2 separate regions of the Homo sapiens genome follow, and region 2 is linked to region 1. The links come from fine-mapping of genetic effects on gene expression. A gene starts in region 1. The other region holds a variant in brackets. All regions are shown on one strand. Distances are from middle to middle.

What was found. PIP is the estimated chance that this variant, and not a neighbour inherited with it, causes the effect.
Region 2: its variant is fine-mapped to the expression of ATF1 in whole blood (INTERVAL, PIP above 0.99).

Annotation. Positions count from the first base shown.
Region 1 is chr12:50,760,638-50,768,973 of GRCh38, reverse strand. It overlaps ATF1 (activating transcription factor 1), which reads right to left and starts at 4,873. Exons shown (of 7, transcript NM_005171.5): 1 at 4,667-4,873. RefSeq lists enhancers at 1-67, 4,010-4,109, 6,410-7,278 and silencers at 4,530-4,619, 4,840-4,919.
Region 2 is chr12:50,808,818-50,817,153 of GRCh38, reverse strand. It overlaps ATF1 (activating transcription factor 1), which reads right to left. Exons shown (of 7, transcript NM_005171.5): 4 at 7,565-7,698; 5 at 2,962-3,144; 6 at 2,715-2,874. Among named protein-coding and RNA genes, the nearest start is that of TMPRSS12, 30 kb to the left of the region's middle. The variant T/C (reference allele first, on the strand shown) is at 3,233.

The sequences.
Region 1 (8,336 bases):
GAAGTGCAGATAAGAGCTGACTCTCCAGCACAGCTTAGGGGCGTGGCTAACTCCACATGTCCCCAGGCCTTATCTAGAATCTAATGGCTTTAAGGTAGGGTAAATTGAACAATTTTTAAAAGTCAAAGAAACAGTTTATGACCTCAAATCATTTAACAAACTTAATATCTGACCTGCATAATTAAGATTAACATTTTTATCAATTTTAAAGATGTGTTTATTTCCTAAAGATTACTAAAGTTACATGAACTAAAAGGCATTAGTTATTTTGCTTTCAAAATATTTGATTTAAATGTTTATTTTTGTTTAAGCTGATTAATCAGAGCTCTTTTATATAAATATTACACACGACACCTATATAGCTACACAGAAAGACAGATGATGATGATAACAGTGGTTGTAAGATTTTTCATTTGCCAGTTTTTAAGTTTCTTAATTGGATTACCGGCTTCAGGGTGGAGCCCTTGGAAGAACAGGGCCACGAAAGGGGTCTCTGGTGCCTCTTGTTTTTCCCAAGGAGTCCAGGCTGTTAGAGCTTGAATATCCACTTTTAATTAAACTTATTTTAACCATAGCACTCTTTAATAAAGTCCTTTTAGAAGTTTTTATGCCAAACGGCTGGTATTTCTGGCTTTTGAATTTTATCAAAGGTAACCTCCCAGGTGCTTAGAAAAAGGAAAATATAAGACAGTTCACAGAGGAGAAGAGAATAGACAAAGTCATGCAGATATTAAACCAGAAACGACTTACTTCCTAGGTGGGTAATTGAACCTGGACTGTTGCCACGGAAGTGCAAAAGCTGGCTGGGTGCGGTGGCTCATGCCTGTAATCCCATCAGTTTAGGAGGCTGAGGCAGGTGGATCACCTGAGGTCAGGAGTTCGAGACCAGCCTGCCCAATATGATGAAACCCCATCTCTACTAAAAATACAAAAATTAGCTGGGCGTAGTGGCACACACCTGTAATCCCAGCTACTTGGGAAGATGACGCAGGCAAATCACTTGAACTCGGGAGGCGGAGGTTGCAGTGAGCTGAGATCGCACCACTGCACTCCAGCCTGGGCGACAGAGCAAGACTCCATCTCAAAAAAAAAAAAAAAGAAAGTGCAAAAGCTTAGCTACTGAGCTACAGCACAGGGCAGTCTCTGTTGACCTTCCCAGAAGGAGTCTAGAGTAGTTAATTTTGAGCTTATAAGGGCTTTTAACTATTTAATATTATTTTTAGAGCTAACTATGACATGAATCCTGAAATTCCTGTTCTCTGAAGGTGGGGACCAAAAGAAAGTACCACCACATGGTTAAAAGGTCAAGCTCCCAAGGACGTAAAACAAGGTGGAGACTTCATCCAGTCTTTTATTTGTTACAGGGACCTGCAGCCAAGTATCTTACTGACCAGCTTGCTGGGTCATCTTGAAAAGCGAGCTTACAGGTGTTCTTTTTTTTCTTTTTTTGAGATGGACATGGAGTCTCGCTCTGTTGCCAGGCTGGAGTGCAGTGGCACGATCTCGGCTCACTGCAACCTCCGCCTCCCGGGTTCAAGTGATTATCCTGCCTCAGCCTCCCAAGTAGCTGGGACTACAGGCGCACGCCACCACACCCAGCTAATTTTTTGTATTTTTAGTAGAGATAGGGTTTCACCATGTTGGCCACGGCTGGTCTCAAACTCCTGACCTCAGGGGATCCACCAGCCTCAGCCTCCCAAAGTGCTGGGATTACAGGCCTGAGCCACCGTGCCAGGCTGATTTTTTTTTTTTTAACCATTCACTTAACCATTTGTACAGTGAGAGAGAAGCCAGAAATCTGACTGGTAATACATTCTTACCCTTTTGCCAGCATCCCAGGCTTCTGGGTTCCCTTTCCCTTAGTGGTCCTAGTGTTCAAGCTTGCAGCATCATTGCCCTGGGGGCCAAGCCGTATCATAAAGGAAAATTATGTTTTTTCCATTCTGGCCAGAGCAAAATACGTGTGATAAAACAAAGACATTAGCCACTCCGCTTAGCACCCAATATCAAACTAGCAAGGCTTAAATTTGCCCCCAGATGGGCCTGTCATCTTTAATTCAACCTCCGACTTGGAGTTTCAACATGTGGCCTCTAGGTAAGATGGTTGCCCTGAGTAATAGAAAAAATAAGAAACGCAAAGTAGATAAGAAAAGTATTGCCTGTGGCAGGGTGGGGAAGCTGAAGAGCTTAGGGAGGCCAGAGAAAAGACCCACTCATTGCAGCCGACAATGAAAACCTCAGGCAGCCGCTTGTACGCAGCAAAGGGACCTTTTCCAGCAGTCCCATCAGCTCTCAAGATTCCCCTTTTATGGGGGGAGGGGGGAGGGATAGCATTGGGAGATATACCTAATGCTAGATGACGAGTTAGTGGGTGAAGTGCACCAGCATGGCACATGTATACATATGTAACTAACCTGCAAAATGTGCACATGTACCCTAAAACTTAAATTAAAAAAAAAAAAGACTCCCCTTTTAGAGAGGAAAAAGCTCCCCATGTCCCACGATCCTGTTCATGCCTAACTCTGTCACCCACAGCCATCAGCAAAGAGCGCAAGGCAGATTAATCCAAAGAGAACAGCAGTTAATATCCCATAGTGCCAAACCTGTTCTTAGCTGAGAGGGAGTTACCTGAGAGGGACTCTAACTCCCTATATCTTAGAAGGGCCTCCAACCCAAGGTCAGTCAAGCTTAAGCGTCCTTGCCTTTTATTAAGAGGGGCCTCGAACCCACTGTCTTAGGAGAGACTCCTAAACATAAATACTGGGTTTCCGCAGTATAGTCGCTTCTGTGGCCACCACAAATACGTTACAGGACCCCAACACTTACCCAAAGGTAGCCGTTGGGTCAGGGTTTCTGCACTATAGTCCCTTTGTGGTCGCCAGAAATATGTTACAGGACAGGCGTCCTGATCCAGGCCCCAACTGAGGGTTCTTGGATCTCGCGCAAGAAATAATTCAGGGCAAGTCCACAGTGCGATGTAAAAGTAACATTATGAAGAAAGTAAAGGAATAAAAAGAACGGCTACTCCATAGACAGAGCAGCCCCAAGGGCTGCTGGTTACCCCTTTTTACTGTTATTTCTCAATGATAGGCTAAACAAGGGGTGGATTAATCACGCCTCCCCTTTTTAGACCATATAGGGTAACTTCCTGACATTGCCATGGGATTTGTAAATGGCGCTGATGGGAGTGTAGCAGTGAGGATGACCAGGGGTCACTCTTGTGGCCATTTCAGTTTTGGCCGGCTTCTTTACTGCAACCTGTTTTATCAGCAAGGTCTTCATGACCTGTATTTTGTGCTGACTTGTCTCATCCTGTGACTTAGAATGCCTTAACTGTCTGGGAATGCAGCCCAGTAGGTTTCAGCCTCATTTTACCCAGCTCCTGTTTAAGATGGAGTTGTTCTAGTTCACACGCCTCTGACACCATCTCTATTTAAAAACAAACAAACAAACAAACAAAACAAAACAAAAACTGGCAAAGATAGCACACCCTATATTTAAAGTCAGAAGGGACTGCCACCTGCTGGTGATCGGGTAGGAATGGACAGATAGCTCACAGACCAAACCTAACCCTAAAAGATAACGGCAAGTATTAAAGAGCTAATACATTCGACTTTAGGGCAACAGTATTGATTCTAATTAAGACACGGAGATAACTGCATATGATAAACTCCAAGAAAAAAGAGCATTTTAGAAGAACGCATTTCTGTTAACAAAAACCTCAGGTTAAAATGCATTCTGAGACATAAATGCCTACGAACTCATCACAGGTGAGGCCAGTTTGACAAAGATGCCTGCCAGATCCACGCCGAGCTTCTGAACCCTAAAGGTTCTCAAAGACTACCAGTTGCCCAATCTCTTCAAAACACTAGCGCCACAACCAGACATTATTTCACATTGCAATCATTTCAAAGCGATTCAGCCGCCAGCTGCACGGCGTCGATCAAAGTGAGAAATGCCAGGCTTCGTTTTTTGACATACAAGATCAAAGAGAAAGTCACCCTCGGCTGGGTCGCCCATCCCAAAGGGTACAGACGCCCTTGTGTCATTCCTAGCCAGGGGTAAAGCCGCCTACTGTCCCCACTCTGTCTCCGCTGCCAGGCGCATCTCTCCAGGACTGTCTGGGGCGTGCGCAATGCCCGTGCGTCGGTTGCCCGCTAGACTGCAAGCTCCAGGAGGGTAAGGGGCGCGCCTCTTCCCTCAGGGTCGCCAGCGCCGACGCGCTTCGAGGACCCTGTCGCGGGGTTAACCAGACCCGGGCTCCGCTCGGCGGACACCGCGCCGAGGCCATATCCGCGCCGCCCTCCGCCCGGCTCCGGGCCCAACCTCGAGACCTCCCACGGAGAGCTAGCGCCTGCGACTGCAAAGGGCGGCTTCTGAGGCGAAAGCCACCCCGCGGCGGGCGGTTTCGGGCTTTACTTTTATTTGGGGGCGAGGGAAAGGAGGAGACGCACGACTGGAAGGGCGCAGCGCAGCTCTGCACCGAGGCGCGGAGGCCGGAAGCGCGGGCGGCCCCTCCCCCTGCCGCTGCGCCCCTCCCCCACCGCCACCACCGCGCGCGACCCCCACCAGGCGCGCGACCCGCGCTGCGTCCCCGCCGGCGCCACGTTCCCGCGTCCTTCCCCGCCCGGGCCACGGGGCACGTCCCTCCCCGCCCCCCACTTACCTGTGGCTGCCGCCTCGCCGCTCTCCGGGGCGGGAACTTCCACTCCCCCCTCCCAGGTAGATCCGAATTCACTACCCACTTCCCCACCCCCTCACGCAGCGGGGGACAAGCCTCCTTCTCGGGGGTCAGGCGGGGCGGGGAGAATCAGTGTCACTTAACAGCCAACTGTCCTAAGCTACCGTTTCCTCGGCAGTCAGGGCCGCTACTGGCGGCATGATCTACACAAGCCTGGGGGCGGGGGCGGGGGCGGGGGAGGGGAGGGGGGCAAAACTGAGCACTAGTGTGCGTTTGGGGTAGGCTATGGCGCTGCCTCCGCGCGGGCCGCCGTCCTGCGTCACCGCGCTGCCCACGTGACGCGCCGCCATCTTGTACGCGGTCCTGACTTGTGGCTAGGGGTTCCTCGGAACGCGTTCCTCAGGCTGCAGCGGGAGAGGGACGGTGCCTGCGGTTCCGTTTCTCCTTAGGAGCTGTACCCCACCCGCCCTACGTCCGCTTCCGGAGGCCATGAGCAGCTGGGTGCTCGCGGGGGGCGTTTTCATCGATTAGTGGCGGCGCTGTCAACTCACCTGCCAATTGACCTTGACCGACGCCGGCCCTGTCCTCTTGGAAGGAGAAATGAAGAGTGAAGGCTTTGACTTCCTCAGCTTTTTTTTTTTTTTTTTTTTTTTAGATGGAGTCTCTTTTTTTTTTCCGAGATTGAGACGGGGGTCTGTGGCCCAGGCTGTAGTGCAGTGGTTCGATCTCGACTCACTGCAGCCTCCAACCCCGGGATTCAAGCGATTCTCCAACCTCAGCCTATGGGGCAGCTGGGACCACAGGCGCGCGCTACCACGCTCGGCTTGAAGAGATGAGGACTCTATGTTGCTCAGGCTGGTCTTGAACTCCTGGGCTCAAGTGATCCTCCGCCTCGGCCTCTCAAAGTTCTGGGATTACAGGCGTGAGCCACCGTGCCCGGCCTTACTCAGATTTTTCTTAATCCCATAAAGTAACAATGAGTTGTGTCCTTTAACCCATGTGGAAGGATTTTCTACAGAAACGGATTTACAATGAGACATAACGATGTGGCCGGGCGCGGTGGCTCATGCCTGTAATCCCAGCACTTTGGGAGGCCCAGGAGGGCGGATCACCTGAGATCGGGAGTTCGAAACCAGCCTGACCAACATGGAGAAACCCCGTCTCTACTAAAAAATACAAAAGTAGCCGGGTGTGGTGGCGAATGCCTGTAATCCAAGCTACTTGGGAGGCTGAGGCAGGAGAATCGCTTGAACCCGGGAGGCGGAGGTTGCGGTGAGCCGAGATCGCACCGTTGCACTCCAGCCTGGGCAACAAGAGCAAAACTGTCTCAAAAAAAAAGAAAAAAGAAACGTAACAGAGTGTTAATAAAATGTTATGCCGTCATTTTAATGCATTACAAAAACTTCAGAATATTTTTGGGTCTACCTCTCTGGAAGGGAGTTATGCCTTATTCTTAATTTTTAAAATTTCCTTGTAAAATGCTGTTTTATGGCTTTAATGATAGTAAACGACAAAAGATAAACTTTTTTAGTATGCTCTTGACAAAAGTTCCGAAAGTTTTCTGAAATTTTACTAGTTTGAGATCCCCAATTTAGGAAACCGATTTAGTGGAGAGAGCTTTGCCTATTTTTGGCCCTTTGGGTCGGAGAATGTGATATAAAGCCGAAGATTTACTCTGCCAGACAGTCTTAAGAGGTCACTAACGTTTAGCTATTGACATTCAGCAAAAATTGTGGATTACCTATTAAATGCTAGACCAGGGGACAACTGTTATTAAGTCAGTGTTTCAGCATTACTGAAAGAAAAGTGGCCTATAAAGGTAAGGGAGAGGAAGAGTTTCTCAGATACCAGCCTTCGATGATTAACAAAGTCCAGCCTCAATCATTCTGGAATCCAGAATATTGATGGCTGGAAGGCTGGTTGTACAAGTTTATTGTTCTTTGGTGTTTGGTTTTTTCTTCCGTGGACCACAGAATGCTTAACAAAAGTTGATCAGTAAAAAGCGGGGGAGGGGCTAGGCGTCGTGGTTCATGACTGTAATTCCAGCACTTTGGGAGGTGGGGGAGGGCAGATCACCTGAGGTCAGGAGTTCGAGACCAGCCTGGCCAACATGGTGAAACCCCGTCTCTACTAAAAATACAAAAATTAGCCAGGTGTGGTGGCACACACCTGTAATCCCAGCCTCTCAGGAGGCTGAAGCATGAGAATCGCTTGAACCTGGGAGGCAGATGTTGCAGTGAGCCAAGATCACGCCACTGCACTCCAGCCTGAGCCACAGAGGGAGACTGTCTCCAAAGAAAAAAAATAAAAACCTGGAAATTTTATTGAAAAATGAAACCTTCAAAATGTGCCTTGACTACTTCTTTAGCTCCTCTTCCTTAGTGCCTTAGGTCTAAATCAAATGTTACGCTCGACCAGTCCTGGTGGCATGCGCCTGTAATCCCATCTACTGGGGAGGCTGAGGCAGGAGGATCATTTGAGCTCGGGAGTTTGAGGATACAGTGAGCTGTGATCATGCCACTGCACTCAAGCCTACATGACAGATGAGACACTGTCTCTAATTTTTTTTTTTTTTTTGAGATGGAGTCTGCCTCTGTCGCCCAGGCTGGAGTGCACTGGTGCAATCTTGGCTCGTTGCAACCTCCACCTCCCGGATTTCAGTGATTCTCCTGCCTCAGCCTCCAAGTAGCTGAGAGATTACAGGTGTGTGCCATCACAGCTGGCTAATTTTTGTAGTTTTTTAAGTAGGGACGGGGTTTCACCATGTTAGCCAGTCTTGGTCTCGAACTGCTGACCTCAAATGATCCGCCTGCTCAGCCTCACAAAGTGCTGGGATTACGAGCATGAGCCACGGCACCTAGCCTCTAAAATAATTTTTTTTAAAATTGTTTAAAAAACAACTCAGGCCGGGCACGGTGGCTTACGCATGTAATCCCAGCACTTTGGAGGGCGCGGTGGGTGGATCACCTGAGGTCAGGAGTTCGAGACCAGCCTGGCAAATATGACGAAACTCCGTCTCTACTGAAAATACAAAAGTTAGCCAGACGTGATGGCGTGAGCCTACAGTCCCAGCTACTCGGGAGGCTGAGACAGGAGAATCGCTTGAACCCAGGAGGCGGAATTTGTGGTGAGCCGAGATCGTGCCACTGCACTCCAGGCTGGGCAACAGTGAGACTCCATCTCAAAAAAAAAAAACAAAAACAAAAAACCACGACTCAGTTGACAGAGGAAAAGAAGAAAAAAAGTTATGCTTGTTCAACACTGCCCCTCAAAAATACTTCTGCTTTTCTTGTCTCTTTCTCATTGAAGTATCATAAACTGTGCCTACCAGTCTTCTGAACTGTGATAACTAGATGAAAAAAAAAAAGAGGTCTTGGTTCTGATGCATGCAGTTTATCTGAATAGTAAGTTTCATAAATCAGATGGACAGATCTTTAATATTAGAAGCAAGGAAAGTGAAACAAAGAAACTTAGAGCCATGGCCGGGCAGGGTGGCTCACGTCCTCCGTAATCCCAGCACTTTGGGAGGCCAAGGTGGGTGGATCACTTGAGGTCAGGAATTCAAGACCAGTATGGCAAAACCCTGCCTCTACCAAAAATACAAAAAATTAGCTGAGCGTGGTGGAGCACACCTGTGGTCCCAGCTACTTGGGAG
Region 2 (8,336 bases), 48 kb before region 1:
ACTAAAACAGCTGGGTCACAGAGTATACCCACGTCAACTGTACAAGATAAGGCCTAATTTCCAAAATGGCTGCATCAATTTACACTCCTATAGTAGTATCTATGAATTCCTGACCATTGTTCCAAATCCTTGCCAACTCTTGGTTAGACTTTAAAATTTTTGCCAATTGGGTGGGTATAAAGGGTATCTAAATGTGTAGCATTAATGTGTATTTCTTTGATTACTAATAAGGCTGAGTAGTCTTTTATATGATTATTAACTACTTGTGTGTTTTTTTTTGTTTGTTTTATTTTTGAGACAAGAGTCTTGCTCTGTTGCCCAGGCTGAAGTACAATGGCGTGATCATGGCTCACTGCAACCTCTGCCTCCAGGTTCAAGTGATTCTCCTGCCTCTACCACATCTAGCTAATGTTTTAAATTTTTTTTAGAGATGGGGTCTCCCTATATTGCCCAGGCTGGTCTCAAACTCCTGGGCTCAAGTGATCCTCCTGCCTTGGCCTCCGAAAATGCTGGGATTACACGTGTGAGCCACCACGCCTGGCCTGTATGGTTTTTTCCATTAAAATGTTTCTGTGCATATTTATGGAGCACATGAGAAAATCTGTTACATGTATATAATGTGTAGCGATCAAGTCAGGGGATTCAGGGTGTCCATCACCTGAGTATTAATAGGTTTTTGTTAAGGGTGGTCATCCTACTCTGCTATGAAACACTGAATTTATTCCTTTTATCTTACTGTGTATGGGTTTGTACCCTTTAACTCTCTTCATCCTCCTCCTTGCCCCTCACCGTTCCCAGTCTCTGTTACCTATTTTTCCATTCTCTCTTTTTTCTTGAGATAGGGTCTTGCTCTGTTGCCCAGGCTGAAGTGCAGTGGTGCGATCATGCTGCCTCAACCCCCTGGGCTCAAGCAATCCTCCCACCTCAGCCTCCCGAGTAGCTGGGATTTTAGGCACACGCCACCATGCCTGGCTAATTTTTTATCTTTTGTAGCAATGGGTATGTTGCCCAGGCTTGCATTGAACTCCTAGGCTCAAGTGATCCTCCCGCCTCGGCCTCCCAAAGTGCTGGGATTACAGGCATAAGCCACCACGCCCAGCCCTATTTTTCCACTCTCTACTTCCATGTGTTCAAATATTTTAGCTCCCACATATAAGTGAGAATGTGATATTTTTTCTTTTTGTGCCTGGCTTATTTCACTTAAGATACTGACCTTCAATTCCATCCATGTTGCTGCAAATGACATGATTTAATTCTTTCTTATCCATTTATCCACTGATGGACACATAGTTGATTCTATTAGCTATTGTGCGTGAATAGTGCTGCAAGTAAACTTATGAGTACAGGTATCCCTCTGATATATTGATTTCTTTTCCTTTGGGTAGATTTCTATTTTTCGTTTTTTGAGAAGTCTCCATACTGGTTTTCATAGTGGTTGTACTAGCTAATTTTAAATTTTTGGGGGCTGGGTGCAGTGGTTCATGCCTGTAATCCCAGCACTTTGGGAGGCTGAGGCAGGTGGATGGATCACTTGAGCCCAGGTCTGAGACCAGCCTAAGCAACATGGCAAAACCCCACCTCTACAAGAAAAAAAAAAAAAATTAGCTGGGTGTGGTGGTATACATCTGTAGTCTCAGCTACTTGGGAGGCCGAGCTGGGAGGATCACTTGAGCCCTGGAGGCAGAGGTTGCAGTAAGCCAAGATTGTGCCACTGCACTCCAGTGTGGGTGACACAGTGAGACCTTGTCTTAAAAAAAAAAATCACAAAAACCAAATATAACTTTTCTACTTTTTGAACTTTTTTGTTAAAAATTAAGACACCAACACCAACATTAGCCTAGGCTAACTAGCCTAGGGTCAGGATCATCAATATCATTGTCTTCCACCTCCATACCTTATCCCACTGGAAGGTCTTTAGGGGCAATAACACACAGGGAGCTGTTATCTCCTATGATAACAATGCCTTCTTCTGGAATACCTCCTGTAGGGGCTGCCTTGAGGCTGTTTTACAGTTAAAAAAATTTTTTTTTTTGAGACAGAGTCTCACTCTGTTGCCCAGGCTGGAGTGCAGTGGCGCAATCTCAGCTTACTGCAAGCTTCGGCTCCCAGATTCATGCCATTCTCCTGCCTCAGCCTCCCGGGTAGCTGGGACTACAGGCGCCCGCCACCACGCCCAGCTAATTTTTTTGTATTTTCAGTAGAGATGGAGTTTCACCACGTTAGCCAGGATGGTCTCGATCTCCTGACCTCGTGATCTGCCCGCCTCAGCTGGGATTACAGGCGTGAGCCACCATGCCTGGCCTACAGTTAACTTTAAAAAAAAAAAAAAAAAAGTAGAAGGTATACACTTTAAAATAATGATTAAAAGTATAGTAAATTCATAAACCAGTAACATATTAACTTATTATAGTATCAAGTATTATGTTCTATACATAATTGCATGTGCTACACTTTTATATGATTGGCAGCACAATAGGTTTGTTTATACCAGCATTGCCACAAACGTGAGTAATGTGTTGCACTATGACATTAGCACAGGACTTTTTAGCTCCATTATAATTTTATGGGACCACCGTCATTCATTTATGTGGTCCATTGTTTACTTAAACATTGTCATGCAGCCCATGACTGTATACAGTTCCAGTTAACATCTGGTTATGTTGTGAGATTTGTAAAAACATTACCCATTCTGGTACTACGATTTTACTACCTACCTGTTTTTCATTAACCTTATTTCTCTTTTCAATTGGGGGTCATCTGTCTTAGTTGTCTGAGAGGTGAGAGTCACAGGAGATGTCATCACCACAGTTTGTGGCAGAGAAGTAGCTGAAGGTGTAGTTCGGATCTGATATGTTTGCATATCTCCTGATGCAGCTAGATGGTAAACAAGAGTGAATGAGTTAGTTAGTAAGTGTCTCTGACAGTGTTAGGAGACTTTCTGTAGACAGAAAGCATACTTACTTTGTACGACCACCTGATTGCTGGGCACAAGTATCTGCTGTCCATCAGAGGTCTGTGCATACTGAAGAATAGTTGTACCTTGCTGAGTACTGCCTGAATTTGTCATGGTTAATGTCTGAAGTCCCTGTACTCCATCTGTGCCTGGACTTGCCAACTGTAAGGCTCCATTTGGGGCAATGGCAACTTTAATCAAAAAGAGAAAATAGCTATTGTAAGGTTATATAATACACTAATTCAAAGGAGTGGCAAAAAGCCCACAAACACTATTTAC[T/C]AAAACAGGTATGAATGCACTTCTACTTGGTAACTGCAGACTACTTTACTTTAGGTGAACTACATGTAAAAGGAATAAAACAGCATTTCTTTTTTTTTTTTCTTTTTTGAGATGGAGTCTCGCTCTACCGCCCAGGCTGGAGTGCAGTGGCACGATCTCGGCTGGCTGCAACCTCTGCCTCCTGGGTTCAAGCCATTCTTGTGCCTCAGCCTCCCAAGGAGCTGGGATTACAGGTGTGCGCCACCATGCCCAGCTGATTTTTATATTTTTAGTAGAGACGGAGCTTCTCCATGTTGGCCAGGCTGGTCTCAAATTCCTGACCCCAGGTGATTCACCCGCCTCAGCCTCCCAAAGTGCTGGGATTACAGGCATGAGCCACTGCACTTGGCCCCATGATAGTTAATTTTTAAGAAAAAATAAAAAGGAAACATAAACATAGTTTGTAATTTTGAGTCAAAAGCATTAAAAATATTATTACTTTAAAATATTTCTGAATAGATAACATGCTTATGGAAAAAATTCAATAGAATAAAAGGTTATATAATGAGAAAATAAGTCATCTTTATATGGTTTCTTAGCTTCATTTTCTAGTGGTACCACTGTTAAATGTATTACATGTTATTAAGATATTTACTTAAGTGATAGTTAAGAAATGTAATCTATTCATTTACTTCCTAGTGAAAATCACTAATAAAGATAGCAGAAAGCCACTGTGTAGAAAATACTACTTAGCTCCCCACAAACATTTTTTCACTGAATTATACCTGTGTTCATGCTTTCTCCTCAGCCCTTAAATGCCCATAAGGCATGATCAAATAGAAAACATTTTAGCATTATTCAATTCCCATATACTCTTCAGAATCGAATGCCTCATCTCTGTACCCTCTTTTCAGATTACAGTTATGAAACATTTTTTTTTCCTTTTATGCTTTGGCTACCAGGAAGCCAAAATACATGTATATGTATATGTGTGTGATGGAAAAATATTTTTTTTCACGCATTCATAATTATCCCTCCCCAACTGCCCCAACTTTAATTTATGAGTTTCAAAATATTTTTTTAAATGTTAGATACAGGGATATGTTGGCTATTTTTTTTGAGACAGGGTCTCACTTGTCACCCAGGCTGGAGTGCAGTGGTGTGGTCCTGGTTCACCACTGCACTCTACCTCCTGGGCTCAAGCAATCCTCCTACCTCAGCCTCCCAAGTAGCTGGAACTATAGATGCACACGGACATGCTCAGCTAATTTTTAAATTTTTTATAGAGATAGGGTCTCCCTATATTGCCCAGTCTGGTCTTGAAATCAAGTGATCCTCCCACTTTGGCCTCCCAAAGTGCAGGGATTACAGGCGTGATCCAACACGCCAGGCTGAGATTTGCTGTGAAGTTATATTAGCAATTAGTTTCAATCTTCTTCCCTGCAACACATTATTATATACATATATACACATACACATTTATTTATATAAGTATCAACATAAATAAAATTAAAGGTCCCATTATCTATCTCTATTTCATTTTCCCCCTTTTACCGCCATCCTGAGATAATTATTGTTTTTGGTGCACATCCTTCCCATTATTTTCCTGTGCTTATACAGACTTATATACTTTTGCCATTATGTTCAGTGGTGAAAACTGCAATTTCTTTTACACCAACCTAATATATCAAAATACATACCTGTAGATGCAAATGTTTTGATATTAAATATGTGTGAATACATATTTTCATTTTTGCAACATATCTTCCTGTTCTTAACATGTGTATTTACCTGTTAATGTGCTGTATTTATTCTAAAACTGAGCTGTCTGATAGGGTATTAGCTCCATGTGGCTATTTAAATTAACTAAAATTAAACAAAATTAAAATTTCAGTTTCTCAGTCCCACCAGCCATATTTCAAGCACTCAACAGTCACACATGGTTTAGTGGCTACTATTCTGGGACAATGCAGATATAAACATTCCCATTATCATACGAAGTTCTATTGGCCTATGTTGCCCTAAATACTAGTTTGTACTACACTTATTTCAGTGATAACATGTGAACCTCCCCACTACCTCTGATCTCTGCTCCCAAGCTTCTTTCCTTGCAACCACTGCTCCCAGTTTCTTTCTTTCTTTCTTCTTTTTCTGAGACTGGTCTTGCTCTATTGCCCAGGCTGGAGTGCGGTGGTACGATCACGGTTCACGGTAACTTCGAACTCCCAGACTCAAGAGATCCCATTTCAGCCTCCCGAGTAGATGGGACTAGTCACATGCCATGATGCCCGGCTTTTTTTTTTTTTTTTTTTCTTCATTTTTCTGTGAAGACACAGTCTTGCTATGTTGCCAAGGCTGGTCCTGAATGTGGCTTCAAGCAATCCTCCAGCCTCAGCCTCTCAACGTACTGAGATTACGGACATGAACTACAGTGCCTGGCCCCCAGTTTCTCAAGAGGTATTCTATATATATATTATTTAATTAATTCATAACAAACAACTGAAAGCCTACTATATGCCAGGTCCTATATGTCAAGGATGTAGTTGTGAATGAAACAAAAGGTTCTTTCCCTTAAGGATCTTATATTCTAGTGGGGAAAACAGATCATGAATAAGCTAATCTATAATTACATACATACAATCTATAATTAAACTAATATGTACTGACTTAGTTATATGTAAATGCTATAAAGAAAAATATAGGAGGTTAAGGGAAACTAAAGGGAGGAGCCACATATTTGAAGAGAGTGGTCTCTTTGTGGAGGTGACACTTAAGCAGAGTAGCCACATAAGGATCTGGGGGAAGAACATGCCAGGCATGAGCAATGACAACTCCAGAGATCCTGAGGCAGAAACAAGCTCGTGTGTCTGAGGTACAGTAAGGAAGTCTGGGGTGGTCAGAATGCCACCAAGTGGCAGGAGATGAGGTCAGAGTGGTAGGCAGATCCTAAATGTAATGCCTTGTAAGATCCGGATTTTATTCTAAGTGTGATAAAATGTCACTAGAGGATTTTGGGCAGGAGCGATGTGATCTAGTTGACATCTTAAATAAATCACTTTGGCCACAGTATGGAAAACTGATTATTAGAGCAAGAATGGAAGCAAGATGACCAACTGGATGCCTACTTCAGTAATTAAGATGAGAGCCTAAACCAAGGCGGTGGTGGTTGGAGACGGCAAGAGGTGGTCAGATGGGACATATATTTTGTGGCAAGACTGAATGAAACAGATTAATGTTAGGAGTGGAGGGGGAGATAACAAATGGGCAGCACAAGTAAATTCGTTAGGGTGACAGAACTCAATCTTGATTGGCGGTGTTATACTATTCTACACATTTGTCAAAACTCATAGACTTAAACTCCCCAAAGAGTGAATTTTACTGTATATAAATCAAACAATAAATATTTTTAACGAATAGGCAGGGGCCAGGCGTGGTGGCTCACGCCTGTAATCCCAGCACTTTGGGAGGCCAAGGTGGGTGAATCACTTCAGGTCAGGAGGAGTTTGAGACCAGCCTGGCCAACATGGTGAAACCCCGTCTCTACTAAAAATGCAAAAATTAGCCAAGCGAAGTGGTACACGCCTGTAATCCCAGCTACTTGGGAGGCTGAGGCAGGAGAATCACTTGAACCCGGGAGGTGGAAGTTGCAGTGAGCCGAGATCATGGCACTGCACTCTAATCTGGGCAACAGAGCGAAACTCCACCTCAAAAAAAAAAAAAAAAGCCAGGAATGTTCTGAAAGGAATTATACTAATATAATATACAGCAATTATGTACGGAACTACATAGATATAAGAATGAACAAAATAAGGCCAGGCGCAGTGGCTCATGTCTATAATCCCAGCACTTTGGGAGGCCAAGGTGGACGGATCACCTGAGGTCAAAGTTCGAGACCAGCCTGGCCAATATGGTGAAACCTCCTCTCTACTAAAAATACAAAAATTAGCCGGGCGTGGTGGCACACGCCTGTAATCCCAGCTACTCCGGAGGCTGAGGCAGGAGAATCACTTGAATCGGGAAGGCAGAGGTTGCAGTGAGCCAAGATTGTGCCACTGCACTCCGGCCTGGGCAACAAGAGCGAGACTCTGTCTCAAAACAAAACAAAACAAAACAAAACAAAACAGTATCTAATGTTGTAGGTCTCAGTTCCCTCATACATTGATAATTGCCTATGTCACAAAGTTGTTATAAGGAGTAAATAATGCTGAAACAGTACTTCGCATTATTCCTGGCTGAAAACATCCTTTAATAATCATCACTATCAAAGTATTACAGTTTTCCTAACACCATTTCTTTCTACAGAAAAGTCAGGTTTTGTGTGTTTATAATGTGGAAACTGATTCCTATACATACTGTACTGTCCGCTGCTAGTCTGATAGATGGGAGTTGGAACAGACATAGAAGTGACAGCAGCAGAAACTCCAGAATTTTCTCCGTCTCCTTTTCTGCCCCGTGTATCTTCAGAAGATAAGTCTTTCAAAATTTTTCTGTAAAAAAAACCAGAACTCTATTAAACATTGGTAATGTGAATGACTTCACAAAAATAATTTTTTTTTTTTTTTTTTTTTTGAGACAAGATCTTGCTTTGTCACCCAGGCTGGAGTACAGTGGCGCCATCATGGCTCACTGCAACCTCTGCTTCCCTGGCTTAAGAGAGTCTTGTGCCCCAGCCTCCCAAGTAGCTGAGACCAGAAGTGTGAGCCACCACACCCAGCTAATTTTTGTATTTTCAGTAGACACGGGGTTTCACCATGTTGGCCAGGCTGGTCTTGATCTCCTGGCTTCAAGTGATCCACTCATCTCCTCTTCCCAAAGTGCTGGGATTACAGGCATGTGCCACCATGCCCGGCCACAAAAAGAAATTCCTAAAACTTTTTCAATCTCAGGTAAAAGTTATAATAATCGGGCCAGTCATGGTGGCTCACACCTGTAATCCCAGCATTTTGGGAGGCCGAGACCAGCGGATCACAAGGTCAGGAGTTTGAGACCAGGCTGGCCAATATGGTGAAACCCTGTCTCTACTAAAAATACAAAAATTAGCTGGGCATGGTGGCAGGCGCCTGTAATCCCAGCTACTTGGGAGGCTGAGGCAGGAGGATCGCTTGAATTCCGGAGGCGGAGGTTG